2 separate regions of the Homo sapiens genome follow, and region 2 is linked to region 1. The links come from fine-mapping of genetic effects on gene expression. A gene starts in region 1. The other region holds a variant in brackets. All regions are shown on one strand. Distances are from middle to middle.

What was found. PIP is the estimated chance that this variant, and not a neighbour inherited with it, causes the effect.
Region 2: its variant is fine-mapped to the expression of DEGS1 in monocytes after LPS (Quach 2016, PIP 0.95).

Annotation. Positions count from the first base shown.
Region 1 is chr1:224,179,274-224,189,228 of GRCh38, forward strand. It overlaps DEGS1 (delta 4-desaturase, sphingolipid 1), which reads left to right and starts at 3,967. Exons shown (of 3, transcript NM_003676.4): 1 at 3,967-4,145. The coding sequence starts at 4,064. It overlaps LOC124900425 (small nucleolar RNA SNORA72), which reads left to right and starts at 368; the gene lies at 368-494. RefSeq lists enhancers at 3,143-3,292, 3,146-3,976, 3,553-3,642, 3,977-4,806, 6,280-6,339 and 1 more and silencers at 3,793-3,992, 4,093-4,472, 4,633-4,712, 6,014-6,308.
Region 2 is chr1:224,201,493-224,211,447 of GRCh38, forward strand. It overlaps LOC101927143 (a long non-coding RNA gene), which reads right to left. Exons shown (of 2, transcript NR_110669.1): 2 at 7,255-7,519. Among named protein-coding and RNA genes, the nearest start is that of DEGS1, 23 kb to the left of the region's middle. RefSeq lists a silencer at 3,469-3,518 and an enhancer at 9,391-9,560. The variant C/A (reference allele first, on the strand shown) is at 4,017.

The sequences.
Region 1 (9,955 bases):
AATCTCAGCTCACTGCAACCTCCGCCTCCCGGGTTCAAGCTGTTTTCTGCCTCAGCTTCCCAAGTAGCTGGGATTACAAGCACCCACCGCCATGCCCAGCTAATTTTTGTATTTTTAGTAGAGACGGGGTTTCACCATCTTGGCCAGGCTGGTCGTGAACTCCTGACCTTGTGATCCACCCACCTCGGCCTCCCAAAGTGCTGGAATTACAGGCGTGAGCCACCATGCCTGGCTATACTTCTTAGCTTACTTTTTTATTACGCGTATATATTAAGAACTTTTAAAAGTCCAAATTAAAGAAGCATGCCTAGACATCATTAAAATAGCTATCAATGCCCATGACAATCCTGTAGCTCAAATAGTTTACTTTAGAATGTCAAAATTGATTTTGTAATAGTCAGGACAGGATAAACAGTCGCTATATTAAGACCATGTACGTGTCCCTAGACCTAGTTCTTTCCCTACGTCTGTTTTTATAAATGCTGGTGATAAACCAGGTCTGATTAATATATAATCATTTTGTGTGATTATGTAACGGCTATAATTCTAGGTTATCTTTGGTCAACCTTAAGAAAAATGGCAGTATATGTAATGACTTTTGCAAATGATCAGTGCTAATTTGCAGACTTTTGTTTAAAGAGGGTTTAAACAAAATAAGAAAATTTCATGATTACCAGTTGCTATTAAATGAATTGTAACTTTTTTTAAAAAAAAAGAATGTCCAAGCCAGGTGTGGTGCTCATGCCTGTAATCCCAGCACTTTGGGAAGCCAAGAAGGGCAGATCACTTAAGGTCAGGAGTTCAAGACCAGCCTGGCCAACATGGTGAAACCCCGTCTCTAGTAAAAATACAAAAAGTTGCTGGACGTGGTGGCACACACCTGTAATCCCAGCTACTCGGGAGGGTGAGGCAGGAGAATCGCTTGAACCCAGGAGGCAGAGGTTGCAGTGAGCCAAGATCTTGACACTGCACTCCAGCCTGGGCAACAGAGCGCAACTCCATCTCAGAAAAAAAAAATGGTATATCCAGATTCACATTTTTTTTCAAACTCTGCATTTTTCTTTCTTTCTTTTATTTTTTAATGTTTTTGAGACAAAGCCTCACTCTGTCACACAGGCTAGAGTGCAGTGCCACAATCTCAGCTCATTTCTCAGCTCATTGAAGCCTCGACCTCCTGGGCTCAAGCAATCTTCCCACCTCAGCCTCAGCAATAGGTGGGACCACAAACATGGGCCACCACGCCCAGTTAAATTTTTTTTTTTTTTTTTTGAGACGGAGTCTTGCTCTGTCGCCCAGTCTGGAGTGCAGTGGTGCGATCTCGGCTCACTGCAAGCTCCGCCTCCCGGTTTCATGCCATTCTCCTTCCTCAGCCCCCCAAGTAGCTGGGGCTACAGGCGCCCCCCCCACCATGCCTGGCTAATTTTTTTTGTATTTTTAGTAGAGATGGGGTTTCACCGTGTTAGCCAGGATGGTCTGGATCTCCTGACCTTGGAGACCGCCTTGGCCTCCCAAAGTGCTGGGATTACAGGCATGAGCCACCATACCCGGCATAATTTTTGTATTTTTTATAGAGGTGGGTTTTTGCCATGTTGCCCAGGCTTGTCCCGAACCCCTGCCCTCAAGCGATCCCCCTACCTCGGCCTCCCAAAGTGCTCAGACTACAGACGTAAGCCTCCGCACACCTTTTGGACTGGTGTGCCAGTTCACACATGCCTGTGATAGCAACTGCGTTCTGAACTGCAGGGATACATTTACTTGTCAGCACCTGAAAACTTCCTCCTGAGTTGAGTCCAATTATCAGCTTCATGTGCCATCTGCCAATCCAGATGAAACTTGGCAAATACAAAGCTGTCCTTTTCCAGGTGACACTCCCCACCTTCTTTTTCCTCCACCATTTCATTAACAACTAAAAAGCTCCTGCATGATCAGACCTGTGTATCTATCCATCATCAAATCCCACTCCTTTTTCGAGACTGGGACCCTCTGGAGGCTGACCCAGCCACGCATTTGCTAGCATGCCCTGCAGACATGACCCTCGCTGGGCTCTGATCAGCCTTCAGGCCTCCACTCCAGGTGTCACTGTTCTGTCTCCCCTCTGCTCTCACAGCCTTCTCTGCTAGATGTCTCAGCCGTGCTGGCCCTCTCTATTTCAGAAGTGAATGTACTGAGAGGGTCTTAGGGACTTATTAATAATGCTCCTGGGGTCGGATGTAGTAGCTCATGCCTGTGATCCCAATACTTTGAGATCACTTGAGCCCAAGCGTTTGAGACCAGCCTGGGCAACAAGGTGAGGCCCCATCTCTATCAAAAATTCAAAAAAGTAGCCAAGCATGGTGGTGCACGCCTGTGATCCCAGCTCCTCGGGAGACTGGGGTGGGAGGATGGCTTAAGCTCAGGTCAAGACTGAAGTGAGACATGAGGCCACCACTGCACTCCAGCCTGGGCAACAGAGCAGGACTCTGTCTCAAAAAAAACAAAACCCACTATAACCATAATACTATTATCACACTTAAGAAATTCATAATTCCTTAATATCATCACATATCCAATTGATATCTGAGTTCAATTATTTCATGTCAATGTTTTTAAACTATTTCAATCAGAATCTAAATGAGGTCAACACGTTGCAATTGGTTGGTATGTCTTTTAAACTCCTTTTAATCTACAGGTTTCTCTTTTTTTGCCTTGAGTTTCATTTATTAGAGAACCCAGACATTGTCCCATATAGTCTCCCAGAGTTGGATCTTGCTAGTTTCATCCCCACGGCCTAGTTTAACACATTCCTCTGTCCTTTCTATTTTCTTTTTTTTTTCTTGAGAGGGAGTCTCCGTCTGTCCCCCAGGCTGGAGTGCAGTGGCTCCGTCTCAGCTCACTGCAACCTCTGCCTCCCAGTTCGAGCGATTCCCCTGCCTCAGCCTCCTGAGTAGCTGGGATTACAGGCGCCTGCCACTACGCCCAGCTAATTTTTTTATATTTTTAGTAGAGACGGGGGTTTCACCATCCTGATCAGGCTGGTCTCGAACTCCCGACCTCAGGTGATGGACCCGCCTCTGCCTCACAGAGTGCAAGGATTACAGACGTGAGCCACCGCACCCGGCCAAATGTCCTTTCTATTTTCTATAAATTAACAGTCAGATCTAGGGGCTCGATCAGATTTGTGTGTGTGTGTGTGCCGTGTGCGCGTGCACAGCATGTTCTTTGACTAGGAGGCACACCTGCTTTGGTTATCTTCTTTTTGTAATCTTTAAGTTGCTCTTTGATGTAGACGTGGTAACTAATGTTGAAACAAAATTAGTTTCGTTTCAAAACCTTTCTTTCAGGAAGAGGTTGTGGTTGATTACTTCTGCGACAGGTAGATGCAAGGTTGAGCAATCATCTCTTAACAGAAGTGGTCACACTAGAATAATTCAAGCACAACAACAAATCCCACATCATCACCCCCTCTTAATAATGGTGTTTTCTTTTTACTTGATTAGCTTTTAATTGTCACGCACTCTGCATTTTTTCCCTGAGGTATTATTTCCAGAAGGCAGCGAAATATGACTCAATGGCTAATTTGCTTTTTAAAAATTAAACAAAACTTAGGCCAGCTGCCATTTAAGAAGGGCTCCGGGGCCTCCAGACTCGGTGTGACCGTAGCCGTGCCCGGTGCTCCCCTCGCGGAGGCGTTAGGGCGGCAGGTTTATCTCACTTGAGACCATTCCTTCCTTTTTCATCTTCTCCGGGCTCCGGCGCAGCAGGCCGCAGGGGCGGGCACTCGCAAGAACGCGGCATCCTGGATGGTGGCCGAGTCACCGAAGCTCAGAACCCCGCGTCCCAGAATCGCTGAGAGCCGGCCCCGCACGGGGGCCTGGGAGCGCCACGCGCCCTCCACCCAGAGAGGCAGGCGGGCGGGCCGGGGGGGGCGGGGCCTCGGGACTCCGCCCACGCCTCCGTCTCCTCCGCGCTCCGCCACAGCCGGCCGACACCACACCAGCCGGGGAGCCGCCGCCGCCGCCGCCACCTCTGAGCAGCCGGCTGGGAGCGAGAGCCGACAGCTAGTCTGCAAGCCACCGCTGTCGCCATGGGGAGCCGCGTCTCGCGGGAAGACTTCGAGTGGGTCTACACCGACCAGCCGCACGCCGACCGGCGCCGGGAGATCCTGGGTGAGGGCCAGCGGGCGCCCCGTTATGTGCGTGCGTGGCCTCCCGGCGCCGGGGCGCGCTCTCCCCTCGCGGGCCCTGCGCGGTCGTGGGCGCCGGAGGCCCGTTAGCAGCCTGCTCCCCGTCGCGTCCCGTCGCCGCTCGGGCCGCCAGCCCGCGGGTCAGCGCGGGAGAGGCTGGGCGAGGAGCGGGGGGAGGGACGGGTCCTCGGAGCCGCGCAGCTCCGACCCTTCCGCGAAGAGGCGCAGGCGCGTCCCCGAGCGCGGGAGTCCCCGCCAGGCCCACGCCGGCCGGTTGGGGCGAAGGGTGTCCCCGGCTGTGCCAGCCTTGAGTAGATCTTTTCGCTAGAAGATTCCTGTGCCCTCAGGTGGGCGCCCTTTCCTCTCACCACTCCCTCTCCTCCGGAGCGGGCCGAGGTGAGCGGGTGCCGGCCTTGGGGCTGCCTGAGTGCTAGGCAGGGTGTGGTCCTGGGCATCCTTGGGCCTACCAGCGAGCCCTGCTCAGGGTGTCGGGCGCCGGCGGGCAGTACTGGCGGGGGCGGCCGCAGTCCCGGCCTTGGGCCCGTTAAGGGGGCCGGCGTCCCTCCATATGCCCCCCGGGGCTTCTCGGACTTGATGGGCCCTGGTCGGTTCACGCCGCTTGTCCCATTGATCCTCACGACAAGCCTGGGACGTAAGAACGGCGGATTCGTAGGCATTTTTCATCCATCTCGGTTTTGTGGATGAAAAGACTGAAAATGGAAGACTTGCCAAATAAGGAAAATATGTGGCGTGGCCTGCTGGTCCCCTGACAGCTAATTGAGAGGCCTTAACTCTCCAGAGGATTCGGGCCTTCTGTGTTACATAGAGAATGCTCATCTCTCCCAGGCTACTCCTAATATGCTAGGGATTGTGTGGAATGCTTTACAAACATTACCCAATTTCATCCTCTTGGTAATTCTACTTGGTTGGTATTATCGCTGTTTTAAAAAATGAAATAAGAACGCGTGACTAAATGCTAGGGGGATTCTAATGCGCATTCGGTTGCCTCTTCCAGAGCACGTGTTTGTTTTTTGTTTGTTTGTTTTTTGAGACTGCACGTGTTTGTTTTTTGTTTGTTTGTTTGTTTGTTTTTTGAGACTGAGTCTCACTCTGTTGCTCATGCTGGAGTGCAGTGGCGCGATCTCCACTCGCTGCAACCTCTGCCTCCTGGGTTCAAGCGATTCTTCTGTCTCAGCCTCCCGAGTAGCTGGGATTACAGGTTCCCACCACTACGCCTGGCTAATGTTTGTATCTTTTTTAGTTAGAGACGGGGTTTCACCATGTTGGCCAGGCTTATCTCGAACTCCTGACCTCAGGTGATCCGCCCGCCTTGGCCTCCCGAAGTTTTGGGATTACAGGCGTGAACCACCGTGCCCGGCCAGAGCACGAGCTTTTTAACCTCTGTTGAGGAAACGGGGACCGGTCACGGTAGCTCAGGCCTGTAATCCTAGCACTTCGGGAGGCTGAGGCGGGAGGATCGCTTCAGCCCAGAAGTTTGAGACCATCCTGAGTAACATAGTGAGAGCCCCCCGTTTACACACACACACACACACACACACACACACACACACTTTTTTTAAATTGAGGAAACGGTGAGTTGAACATGAGCAATTATTCCTTATATATAGTATTTCCTTAGTTTTTCTTCTCAACATTCATTTGCCCAGTGAAAAGAAAAAGCAAGTAGCTGGGACCACAAGCGCACACCACCATGCCTGGTTGATTTTTCTATTTTTTGTAGAGATGGGTTTCTCCGTGTTGCCCAGGCTGGTCTTGAACTCCTGGGCTCAAGCAATCTGTCCGCTTTGGCCTCCCAAAGTGCTGGGATTTTAAAGGCGTAAGCCACTGCACCCGGTAACTTTGGGTTCTTGAATTCCCTTCCTCCTCTTCTTCCTCCTCCCCTACACTCCATTAGAGAAAGGGTCTTGCTTTGTTGCCCAAGCTGGAGTGCGGTGGTTGTTCACAGGCATGATGATCACTGCAGCCTGGGCTCCAGTGGTCCGCATACCTCAGCCTGCCAGTAGCAATTTGTTTGGCACATCACTTACACATACTTGATATGAGATAGCATGATACTTTTTTGAGACGGAGCCGCACTCTGTCACCCAGGCTGGAGTGCAGTGGCCCAGTCTCGGCTCACTGCAACCTCTCCCTCCTGGGTTCAAGCAGTTCTGCCTGCCCCAGTCTCCCGAGTACCTGGGATTACAGACGCCCGCCACCATACCTGGCTAAGTTTTTCTATTTTTATTTTTAGTAGAGACAGGGTTTTGCCACATTGGCCAGGCTGGTCTCAGATGATGCGCCTGCCATGGCCTCCCAAAGTCCTGGGATTACAGGCGTGAGCCACCCTGCCAGGCCACATATGATATATTTTATCAATGCCTTATCTACATGTTACATAGGAATAATCTAGCGTCCTACCTGTGTAAAAACCAACTCTGGAATACTGAAACTGAGCTACTTAATATTCTGAAAATCAGGACGGGTGTGGTGGCTTTTTTTTGCCTGTAATCCGAGCACTTTGAGAAGCTGAGGCAAGAAGATCGCTTGAGGCCAGTTCAGAACAGCCCCATCTGCACGAGAAATTAAAAAATTAGCTAGGCGTGCATGCCTGTCCCGCTACTCAGAAGGCTGAGGCGAGAGGAACACTTGAACTCAGGAGTTCGAGGCCAACCTGGGCAACATGGCAAAACCCCATCTCTACCAAAAAAAAAAAAATTTAATTAGCGGGACATGGTGGCATGTGCCTGTGGTCCCAGCTACACAGAAGGCTGAGGTGGGAGGATTGCTTGAGCTGGGGAGGTAGAGGCTGCAGTGAGCCGTGATTGCCCCACCGCGTTCCAGCCTGGGCAACAGAGTGAGACTGTCTCAAGAAAAAGAGATGAAGGAAGTGAGAAGGTGCTGATTGATACTTACCTCACACTGAGCCTTTTTTCCCCCCACAGACTTATCACTGAACCATTTCACTGGGAAAGTAAAAGGACCACATATTTCTTGGCCGGGCATGGTGGCTCACGCCTGTAATCCCAGCACTTTAGGAGGCTAAGGTGGGCGGATCATGAGGTCAGGAGATCGAGACCATCCTGGCTAACACGGTGAAACCCCATCTCTACTAAAAATACAAAAAATTAGCCGGGCGTGGCGGCAGCCACCTGTAGTCCCAACTACTCAGGAGGCCGAGGCAGGAGAATGGCGTGAACCCGGGAGGCAGAGCTTGCAGTGAGCTGAGATGGTGCCACTGCACTCCAGCCTGGGCGACAGAGTGAGCCTCCGTCTCAAAAAAAAAAAAAAAAAAAAAAGAAGGACTACATATTTCTCAATGAAAATACAGTGTACAATGTTTTCCATGCAGGTGTAAATACTAACTCATGTTCTGTTTCAGGGTGGGAGATGGAATAACCTGTAGAAAGAATCTTTAGATTTGTTTAAATTATACACAAATGATAAGAGATCTTTCTGAAAGTATTGACTTTTTGGCGGGGGAGGGAAGGGGCCTGATAGAACAACCAACAATTGTACACTTTAAGTTTACATTTAGAGTTCACATTAAAAGTTCATTTACAAGGCATCTGTTTGAAATTCGTGAGGATGAGCTGGGCTGGGTGGCTCATGGCTGTAATCCCAGCCCTTGGGTGGCTGAGGTGGACAGGTCACCTGAGGTCAGGAGTTCAAGACCAGTCTGGCCAACATGGTGAAACCCCGTCTCTACTAAAAATACAAAAATTAGCTGGGTGTGGTGGTGGGCGCCTGTAATCCCAGCTACTGGGAAGGCTGAGGCAGGAGAATTGCTTGAACCCAGGAGGCAGAGGGTGCAGTGAGCTGAGATCTCACCATTGCACTCCAGCCTGGGCAACAGAGCGAGACTCCGTCTCAAAAAAAAAAAAGAATAAATCACAAGAAATGGTTCCTTCACTGTTATACTTTAACATGATACAGCTTTTTAATGTTTTATTTTTTGAGAGAGAGTCTCACTGTGTTGCCCAGGCTGGAGTGCAGTGGTGTGATCATAAATTCTTGGGCTCAAGTGATGCTCCCGCTTCAGCATCCTAAGTAGCTGGGACTACAGGCTTGTGCCACCTCACCTGGCTAATTTTTTTTATTTTTGGTAGAAATAGAATCTGTTTGCCCAGGCTGGTCTTGAACACTGGGCCTCAGGCAGTCTTTGTGCCTCAGCCTCCCAAAGTGCTGGATTAATGGTGTGAGCCACAGCACCTGGCCAATAGCTTTATTGAGATTATAATTCAACTATCATGATTTATTCATTTAAAGTGTACAGTTCAGTATTTTTTAGTATATTCACAGAGTTGTGCAGCTGTCACCACCATATAACCTTAGAACATTTCATCATCACCAAAAGAAACCCTATACTCATTAGCAGTCCCTCATATCCCCTGCTTCTACCTAGGTAACCACTAATCTACTTTGTGGCCTATAGATTTGCTTATTCTGGACATTTCATATACATGAAATCATAAAATACCTGATCTTTTATGATTGGCTTTTACTTAGCATAATATAAATTTTTTTTTTTTTTTAATTTGTAGAGACAGGGTCCTGTTATGTTGCCCAGGCTGATCTTGAATTCCTGGGCTCAAGTGATCCTCCTGCCTTGGCCTCTCAGAGTGCTGGCATTATAGGTGTGAGCCACTGCACCCAGCCATTAGCATAATATTTTAGCTGGGCACAGTGGCATGCTCCTGTAGTCCCAGCTACTAGGGTGACTGAGGCAGGAGGATCACTTGAGTCCAGGAGTTTGAGGCTGTAGTGAGCTATGATGGCATCACTGTACTTCAGCCTGAGTGACAGAGGTAGACCCTGTCTCTAAATATTTTAAGGTTCATTAAAATAATATATTTTCAATAAAATAATATTTCAATAAAATAATATTTTAAGGTTCATTCATGTTATAGCATATGTCAGTGTATGATTCCTTTTTCTGGCTGAATAATATTCCTTTGTATGGATATACCAGGTGTTTAACATTTTGAGGAACTGCTGTACAGTTTTCCAAAGCAGCTGCACCATTTTATATTCCCACTAGCAAAGTATGAGGGTTCTAATTTCTCCACATCCTTGTTTTTACCTACCTTTTTTTATTATAGTCATCCTAGTGAGTGTGAGGTGGTATCTATGGTTTCAGTTTGCACTTTCCTAATGACTAACGGTGTTGAGCCTCTTTCATGTGTTTCTTGACTGTTTCCGTATCTTTTGGAGAAAAGTGGGTTCAGATCCTTTGCCCATTTTTTAATTGGATTATTAGTTGTAAGAGTTCTTCATATATTCTGGATATAGGTCCCTTATGAGATACATGATTTGCAAACATAACCCCGCTTCTGTGGATTGTCTTTTTACTTTCTTGACAGTATCATGTGCAACAGAAAGTTTTTGATGCTGTCCGATTTCTCTGTTTTCTTTTGTCACTTGTACTTGTTATAGTATCTAAGAAACCACAAAGGCCATGAAGATTTATTTCTATGTTTTCTTATCAGAGTTTTATAATTTTCTTATAAATTTGGGTCTGTGATCTGTTTTGAGTTCATTTTTGTGTATGGTGTAAGGTAGGGGTCTGAATCCATTCTTTTGCCTGTTGATAACAAGTCGGTCTAGCACCATTTGTTGAAAGGACTGTTCTTTCCCTGATTATATTGGTAGCCTGTAGTATTGGTTTTTATATACTATTACAATTTTGGGAAAATTCAGTACAGAATTACTTGGAGCATGTTGATTTGTCTGAGAAAACTGTGAATACCAGTTTCATGATTTTAGGGTAACTACAAAATGTATATTATATTC
Region 2 (9,955 bases), 22 kb after region 1:
GCCCCACCACAGACGGCAGTGATCAGAAAGATATTCTTCTCTGGGGAGGGCTGGGCCCCATCCACTCCCCAGTCAACTCCCCACATTCCAGGGAGATGCAGTGAGCTCTTCTCTGCAGCCAGCTCAGGCTCATGACTGCACTGCCAGGGAAGAGAGTAACATTGCTCCAGACCCATTTGTACCTGACTGCTCTAAAGGTTACCTTGGATCTGGGAAAGTTTGCTGAGTAAATTAATAACATAAGCAAGGACGTAAGAAGAACTTTAACCTACCTCACAGAATTCTATACTAAGAGGCCAAACTGTTTTTGAGAACCAAAGGACAATGCATACAACGAGTCTGGTTATTCCTAGAGAATCCTAACTGGGAGCTGACAATATTGATGGGGCTCCTGCCAAGTGCCGGGGCCTGTGCTCATCTCTTTATGGACTGTTTCATCCTTACATTGGTATTATCCTCATTTTGCAGCCAAGAAAATAAACTAATAGGAAGGAATAAGTAACTTGTCTAAAGTCATGCAGCCAAAATTCTAACCCAATGTCTACAAAGTCCATGACATTGCATTTTTCTTTTTCTTTTTTTAATTAAAAAGAGACCAGGCCGGGCGTGGTGGCTCATGCCTGTAATCCCAGGACTTTGGGAGGCCAAGGTGAGTTGATCACTTGAGGCCAGGAGTTCAAGACCAGCCTGGCCAACACAGTGAAACCCCATCTCTAGTAAAAATACAAAAAATTAACTGGGTATGATAGCGTGCACCTGTAATCCCAGCTACTTGGGAGGCTGAGGCAGGATAATTGCTTGAACCTGGTAGGAGGAGGTTGCAGGGAGCCGAGATTGCGCCCCTGCACTCCAGCCTGGGTGACACAGGGAGACTGTGTCTCAAAAAAAAAAAAAAAAAAAAAGAGACTGGGTCCGGGCTCACTATGTTGCCCAGACTGCTCGTGAACTCTTTGTTGTTGTTGTTGTTGAGACAGAGTTTCCTTTAGCTCTTGTTGCCCAGGCTGAAGTGCAATGGCACGATCTCGGCTCACTGCAACCTCTGCCTCCCAGGTTCAAGCAATTCTCCTCCCTCAGCCTCCCGAGTAGCTGGGATTACAGGCACCCGCCACCACACCTGGCTGGCTAATTTTTGTATTTTTAGTAGAGACAGGTTTCACCATGTCGACCAGGCTGGTCTCGAACTCCTGACCTCAAGTGATCTACCTGCCTCGGCCTCCCAAAGTGCTGGGATTACAGGTGTGAGCCACTGAGCCTGGCTAAGAGAAAGGCCTTGAACTCTTAAATTCCTGGCCTCAAGCAATCCTCCCATCTCAGCCTCCCAAGTGCTGGGATTACAGGAGTGAGCCACTACACCTGGCCAATATTTGTGTTTTTTTTTTTTTTTTTGAGATGGAGTCTCACTCAATAGCCCAGGCTGGAGTACAGTGGCGCGATCTCTGCTCATTGCAGCCTCCATCTCCCGGGTTCAAGCGATTCTCCCACCTTAGCCTCCCGAGTAGCTGGGACTACAGGTGCATGCCACCACGCCTGTCTAGTTTTTGTATTTTTAGTAGAGATGGGGTTTCATGACGTTGGCCTCGAACTCCTGATCTCAGGTGATCTGCCCACCTCAACCTCCCAAAGTGCTGGGATTACAGGCGTGAACCACTATGCCCGGCCCAAAGTTTGTATTTCTTAAAAAGGATTTTACAATGATAATTTTCCTCAAATTCAGAGCCCGCTTTCTACTTAGTATAACTGATGGGGTTTTCTAATGATAATATGAACCGTCCCACTCCCAGGAACACAGGCAGCAGGCCAAGCAGTGGCTCTCAGTGAGGGTGAGTGTGTGGGTTGGGGGAGGGGCAGCCCATGAACACCCCAAGCTACTTCCACACTCCAATGGTCAGGAGAATGCAGAATTGAAAGCAGGAACAGGAGTCTGTGGCCTGGAGCTCACATTTAACCAAATAGTTTTCAGAGCTGGCTCAGAAACAGTTCTCCAAACCACAGCACTCTGCAAAGCCCAGCTGAGATCATCAGATGGCCATCCCAGGACAAGCAAGCAGAACTCCTCGGCCTGGGGTCCTGTTTGCCAAAAGGAATCTGGATGTTGTGAGTGCCTCAAGTCACTGACTCCCCCTCCTCATGACCAGGGGATGATGAGCAGCTGTTTAATAAGCCACCGGTGTCAAACCCGGTGGCCGGGGGCCCAGGAAGAACCCCGACTTGGGAGTGCAGCCCCTTAGGCATCTCAGAGCCAGGGACAGGAAAGAAAGACAGGTTGTGTTGCCAGTGTGACTGAAGCAAATTACCTTCCCTGGGCTGGTTTCCTTTATCTATCTTGTCTATCTTTTCTTACCTCCCTCCCGGGACCTTGAGATGCCTTGGAAATCAGATGGGAAAAGCACTGTCACTCACTGCAGGGGTTGTGGTAATGCTGGTTACTGATGCCACTGGGAACACCAAGCTACAGGAGTCAGTCATTTGGGACAGTGCCAGCAGTCAGAGCACAGGTCACACTTGTTCCAAACCATGGCAGTCGGTGCTTGCTGCCCAAACTATTGTCTGAGTTTATTTTTTAAGAAATAAAAAAAAAAATTATCATAGAATACAAAGAACATAAAATACACCATTGTTACCATTTTTTTTTTCTCTTTTTGAGACAGAGTCTCACTCTGTTGCCCAGGCTGGAGTGCAATGGTGCAATCTCAGCTCACTGCAACCTCTGCCTCCCGGGTTCAAGCAATTCTCCTGCCTCAGCCTCCCAAGTAGATGGGATTACAGGCGCCCACCACTGCACCTGGCTAATTTTTTTTTGTATTTTTAGTAGAGATGGGGTTTCACCATATATGGTCAGGCTGGTCTCAAACTCCTGACCTCAGGTGATCCACCCGCCTCGGCCTCCCAAAGTGCTGGGATTACAGGCATTAGCCAACGCACCCAGCCCATTGTTACCATTTTCACGTGTCCAGTTCAGGAGTATTACATACATTCACATTGTTATGCAACCTATCTCCAGAACTTTTCATCTTGAAAATCTGAGATTCAAAAAATAAAAATAAAAAAATGAAAGAAAAAGAAAAAAAAAATAAAAAGAAGAAGAAGGAAAAAAGAAAAACCGAAATTCCATGCTCATTAAACAGCTCCCTATTTTCCCTCCCCCAGCCCCTGGCAACTAGCACTTTACTTTCTGTTTCTATAAATTTGACTTGAGTATTTTTTTTTTAATCAACAAAACTCTTAACTTGCACTGTCAATATATTCCAAATATTCCAATATATTCCAAAATATTCCACAGCAGGCCTGGGTCATGCTGGATTAGCAAAGACAAGGACTGGCCTAGATGGAGTCACACCCTCCCCAGCCTTGGGTTTGGGTAATTCTCAACACCCTAATTCATTCTCCCCTGGCAGCTGGAGAGACCCGTGGGACAGCCACTCACTGCAGAAGGGGCTGGTGAGAGACATGCTCGTCATCTCCGAGGGCCTGGCTCTGCGCCAGCCACACACTTATCTGCCTGCTCCATCTCCGGAGTTTCTGTCTCTGAGCTTTGGCAATGGAAGTTGTGCTTCCACTATTAGCCAACACCGAGCTGGACTCTGGTAACTGACACAGCCGTGCATCTAGTGTAGCTCGGGTTGAGATGACTTGGCTTTTTTTTTTTTTTTTTTTTTTTTGAGACGGAGTCTCGCTCCGTCACCCAGGCTGGAGTGCAGTGGCGGGATCTCGGCTCACTGCAAGCTCCGCCTCCCGGGTTCACGCCATTCTCCTGCCTCAGCCTCCCGAGTAGCTGGGACTACAGGCGCCCGCCACCACGCCCGGCTAATTTTTTGTATTTTTAGTAGAGACGGGGTTTCACCGTGTTAGCCGGGATGGTCTCGATCTCCTGACCTCGTGATCCGCCCGCCTCGGCCTCCCAAAGTGCTGGGATTACAGGCGTGAGCCACCGCGCCCGGCCGACTTGGCTTTTTAAATTGCCTTCTATGAATATATATTTGTCCTAAGACTGGACTGGCCACATGAAATCAGGTTTT[C/A]AAAACGGAACTGCCTGTGAGGATGTGTGAGTGTGGATGTCAGGTGGCAAGGGGCTGAGAAGGAAAGTGCAAGGGGGCCTCCCATCCCACATGACTCACACGTTGCTCACATACACACACCCAGCCCCCCCCCCCCAACCCCAACACACACACGCAGGGCTGTAAACCATATGATTAGGCTCCTGCCTGACTCTCCCAGGCCATCTCTCCCTGTGGTCCAGCCACCATGGGCTGCTTTCTGCTCCAAACACACTCAGGATTGCTGTGTCCCAGGGCCTGCTTGGTGTCCTCTGCGTAGACACTAGACCAGAGCTCACAGAGCCACCTCCCTCTCAATAATCAGCTCTCAGCTCAAATGCCACCTCTTTAAAGAAGACTTCCTTAGAAACGGCCTGATTTCTAGTTTCACCAAAAACTGACCCTGAGATGAGAATTTGGGTATATGGCTTATTTGGAAGGTGATCCTGAAATGAGTGAGAAAAGGAAATCCAAAAAAGCAGGCCAGTAAAGCGTGTGTCACTTAAGGAGCAGGTAACCACTGTAGGCAACTGGAGCTCATTCCCCAGGACTCCTGAGAGCTCTCGCAATGTCCCACCAATGGTTACAGAGGTGTTTGCCTTGGAGTAATTCATTAAGCTGCACGTTTGCTCTGTGTATTTTTCTGTATCTGGATTTTACAATACAAGATTTTTTGTTTTGTGTTTTGTGTTTTTTGAGACAGAGTCTCGCTCCGTCACCCAGGCTGGAGTGCAATGGTACGATCTCGGCTCACTGCAACCTCCGCCTCCCAGGTTCCAGCGATTCTCCTGCCTCAGCCTCCTGAGTAGCTGGGATTACAGGCACCTGCCACCATGCCTGGCTAATTCTGGTATTTTTTTAGTAGAGATGGGGTTTTACCATGTTGGCCAGGCTGGTCTCAAACTCCCAACCCCAGGTGATCCGCCTGTCTTGGCCTCCCAAAGGACTGGGATTACAGGTGAGAGCCACCATGCCTGGCCATTTTTTGTTTTTTGAGAGAGTCTCACTCTGTCACCCAGGCTGGTGTGCAATAGCGTAATCACTAAGTGCAGCCTTGACCTCCCAGGCTCCAATGATCCTCCTACCTCAGCTGATACTACAGGCATATGCCACTGTGAAAGAAAAATAAACCTTGGAGCCCTAAAAGCACTAAGCTAAAGGGAAAAGTCAAGATGGGAACTGCTAGGACAAACCTACCTCCCATTCTGTTGAAAGTCATTTCTCTGCTCAGCTGGGCAGGTGGCTCATGCCTGTAATCCCAGCACTTTGGGAGGCCGAGGCAGGCAGATCACGAGGTAAGGAGATTGAGACCATCCTGGCTAACATGGTGAAACCCCATCTCTACTAAAAATACAAAAAATTAGCCGGGCATGGTGGCAGGTGCCTGTAGTCCCAGCTACTCGGGAAGCTGAGACAGGAGAATGGCGTGAACCCAGGAGGTGGAGCTTGCAGTGAGCGGAGATCATGCCACTGCACTCCAGCCTGGGTGATAGAGCAAGAGTCCGTCTCAAAAAAAAAAAAAAATTAGGAAGTCATTCCTCTGCTTACTGAGATAGATGCATATCTGATTGCCTCCTTTGGAAAGGCTAATCAGAAAGTCAAAAGAATGCAACCCTTTGTCTCTCACCTACCTGTCACCTGGAAACCCTCTCCCTGCTTGAGTTGTCCCACCTTTCCGGACAGAACCAATGTACATATTACATTGATTGACTTCTCATGTCTCCCTAAAATGTATAAAACCAAGCTGTTGGCTGGCGCGGTGGCTCACGCCTGTAATCCTAGCACTTTGAGAGACCGAGGCAGATGGATCACCTGAGGTCAGGAGTTTGAGACCAGCCTGGCCAATGTGGTGAAACCCCGTCTGTACTAAAAATACAAAAATTAGCCGGGCGTGGTGGCGGGCACCTGTTATCACAGCTACTCGGGAGGCTGAGGGAGGAGAATCGCTTGAGCCTGGGGGGCAGAGGCTGCAGTGAGCTGAGATCACACCACTTCATTCCAGCCTGGGTGAAAGAGCGAAACTCCGTCTCAAAAAAAAAAAAAAAGAAAAAACCAAGCTGTGTGGCCGGGCGTGGTGGCTTACGCCTGTAATCCCAGCACTTTGGGAGGCCAAGGCAGGCAGATCACCTGAGGTCAGGAGTTCAAGACCAGCCTGACCAACATGGTGAAAACCCATCTCTACTAAAAAATACAAAAATGAGACGGGTGTGGTGTCATGTGCCTGTAATCCCAGCTACCTGGGAGGCTGAGGCAGGAGGATCGCTTGAATCCAGGAGGCGGAGGTTACAGTGAGCCATGATCATGCTACTACACTCCAGCCTGGATGACAGAGCAAGGCTCCGTCTCAAAAAAATAATAATAATTTAAAAAGTAAAAAATAAAAATAAAACCAAGCTGTGCCCCCACTACCTGGGCACATGTCATCAGGACCTCCTGAGGCTGTCATGAACTGGTCTCAAGTGATCCGCCTGCCTCGGTCTCCCAAAGTGTTGGGATTACAGGTGTGGGCTGCTGCTCCCAGCCAAAAATAAACTTTCTAAATTAACTGAGACCCTTCTTAGATTTTTACGGTTCCCACCACGAAGCCTGGCTAATTTTAAAATTTTCTGTAGAGATGGGGGTGTTGGCGGGTTGGGCCGAGGGAAGAGGGAGGTCTCACTATGTTCCTAGGCCTGGTTGTGAACTCATAGGCTCAAGCAATCCCCCCATCTCTGCCATGCAGCCAATACAAGATTTTTTTAAAGTTCCTCGGAGAGGTGAGGAGGCTGAGGTGCATGTTCACCGACTCCTGTCCCTCTTTGGTTGAAGGTTGCTCGTGGGGACACTTCGGATTGGTCTGGGGTAGAGGAGCAGAGAAAGCCCTCAGGCAGAGACCCAGGACAGCCTCTGCACAAATGGGCACTGTCTGGAGTGTACAGAGGACAGGAGAGGCCCTGAAGGGTGTCCAATGCCACCTCACCAATGTCACACCCACCTTCACCATGACTTTCTCTATCCAAATCCCAGGGGCCTAAGCTTCAGGACCCCTTACTGGCATGCCCCGTCCAGGCCCTAGGAGAGAGGTGTTGTTACTATTATCCTGTGTTTACAGATGAAGAAAATGACACACAGTGAGTGGAAGGAACTTGCCCACGGCTAGAGAGCAGCAGAAGAGGGCAAGTCTTATCCGCTGACAATCCCTTTCCTAATCTTTAAGGAAACAAAGCACAATGATGAAAAATTTAAAGGTTTAAGGTTTTAATAATGCTCCAGGTAGGCCGGGCATGGTGGCTCACACCTGTAATCTTAGCACTTTGGGAGGCTGAGGTGGGTGGATCACAATGTCAGGAGTTCAAGACTAGCCTGGCCAACATGGTGAAATCTCGTCTCTACTAAAAATACAAAATTAGCTGGGTGTGGAGGCACTTGAACCCAGGAGGCAGAATTTTTGGTGAGCCAAGATCACGCCACTGCATTCTAGCCTGGGCAACAGAGCAAGATTCCATCTAAAAATAAATAAATAAATAAATAAATAAATAAATAAATAAATAAATAAATGAATGAATAATAAAATTTTTCCAAGTATAGTCACAAGACAAAAAGGAGTGACTCATGAAAGGAGAGAGGACTTAAATACTCTTAAGTACTGGCTGTGGGTTAGCACAAGAAAGGAGTAAATGCAAGGAACTGGATAGAATGACTGATTTAGTGGCCGGGTGCAGTGGCTCGCGCCTGTAATCCCAGCACTTTGGGAGGCTGAGGCGGGCGCATCACCTGAGATTGGGAGTTTGAGACCAGCCTGACCAACATGGAGAAACCCCGTCTCTACTAAAAATACAAAATTAGCCGGGCATGGCAGGAGAATCACTTGAACCCAGGAGGCGGAAGTTGTGGTGAGCAGAGATCATGCCATTGCACTCCAGCCTGGGCAACAAGAGTGAAACTCTGTCTCAAAAAAAGGAATGACTGATTTAGGTACAGGAGAGCAGTTTGTTAATACACTTGTGCATAACTTTGCTCACCTTCTTTTTCTGTTGCTAAAGTAATTTGTAGGCCAGGTACAGTGGCTCATGCCTGTTATCCCAGCACTTTGGGAGGCCGAGGCAGGTGGATCACTTGCAGTCGGGAGTTCAAGACCAGCCTGGCCAACATAGCGAAACCCCATCTCTACTAAAAATAGAAAAATTAGCCAGGCGTGGTGGAGCACACCTGTCGTCCCAGATACTTGGGAGGCTAAGGCAGGAGGATTGCTTGAACCCAGGAGGGTTCAGTGAACTGAGATCATGCCCCTGTACTCCAGCCTGGGCGACAGAGCCAGACCCTGTCTCAAAAAGAAAAAAAAGTAATTTGTAGAAATTCACATAAAAGTAGCAAAAAGGTATATAAGTTGTCCATAATCCCAGCTCTCAAAGGCCACCATTATGAATGCTTTTGTAAGTTATGAATGAATGCTTTTGTAAGTCATTATGAGTGCTGGGGTTACAGGCTTGAGCCACCCATGCCCGGCCAAAGCAGATCTGTGTTCCCTGTTCTGTCCTTCCCAGTCTACTTACCTTCATTTATCCAATCACAGACCCCAAGACCCACAGACCCCAAGACCCACAGACCACAGTAAAAGGTCCTAAGGTAGAAAAGCCAGACCAGAAGCTGAGCGCTGGGCTTTTCCCCCACCATGTGCCACTGTCCCCTAACATTTGTACCAGCTGCTTCATCATAACCATACAGAAAATGGTACCTGGCCAGCCTCTTCCTAGGTTAGCGTGCAGCTCCCTGACATACTTGCAAGTCTCATTCCAGGTCAGGTCTGTGGTGCTATAAATCCAGCTCTGTCTATCTCTCAACTAGAGGCGTCTGGGTCAGGGGCATTGCCTCTGACTGATGGACACTGAAGTTCTGCAGCTCCCGAAGGTCACAGGAAAGAGGCGTTGAGGGGTGGAGGGTGAATGTTACCCTCTATTTGTAATCTTGGAATGCAGAGACGTAGCCTTTGCTCTTCCCTCTGCCCAGCACTATCTTCCTCCCAAAAGCTGCACCACTTACTCTCACTTCCTTCAGAGATCATCTTGCCAGAGGCCTTTCCTGGCCAATCTCTCTTTTTTTTTTTTTTTTTTTTTTTGAGAGGGAGTTTCACTCTTATTGCCCAGGCTGGAGTGCAATGGCACGATCTCAGCTCACAGCAACCTCTGCCTCCCGGGTTCAAGCCATTCTCCTGCCTCAGCCTCCCGAGTAGCTGGAATTACAGGCATGCGCCACCACGCTTGGCTAATTTTGTATTTTTAGTAGAGATGGGGTTTCTCCATGTTGGTCAGGCTGGTCTCGAACTCCAGACCTCAGGTGATCCGCCCACCTCGGCCTCCCAAAGTGCTGGGATTACAGGCGTGAGCCACTGCACCCGGCGTGGCCAATCTCTATACAGTAACCACCCCACTCACGCACACCCTTGGCCCTTTCCAGAGCCTTACCCTGCTTCTTCTTCACAGCACATTCCACTTGTTTTATATATATATCTGTGTGCATACATAAATATATATATTTGGATTTATTGACTGTACCCTGTACCCTCTTCCCACTGGAAAGAAAGGCCCATAGGGGAGGAACTTTGTTTTGGCTCTTAGCTGTATTATCATTACCCACTAGCACAGCTGCAGTCAATAAATATTTGTTGACGGGATTAATGAAATCTCTCCTCCCACTTATATTACTGTCCTTGCAGTTTCTAATTTCAACTTACAAGTGGACTATGAACTGCAAATTACTACACTGTGCACTGATGCTAATTAAAAAATCATTAGGATGGCCTGGAATGAACTTGGCTTAATTTTAATCTGCCACCTGAATGTGGTCCAGGTTCCAGGTGAAAACAAATACAGGATCCTTCAGGATTTGAGACCTGCAGTACAGTAATTCCAGCAGAGATAAGCAGGGCTCCCGGAATTTGTCCC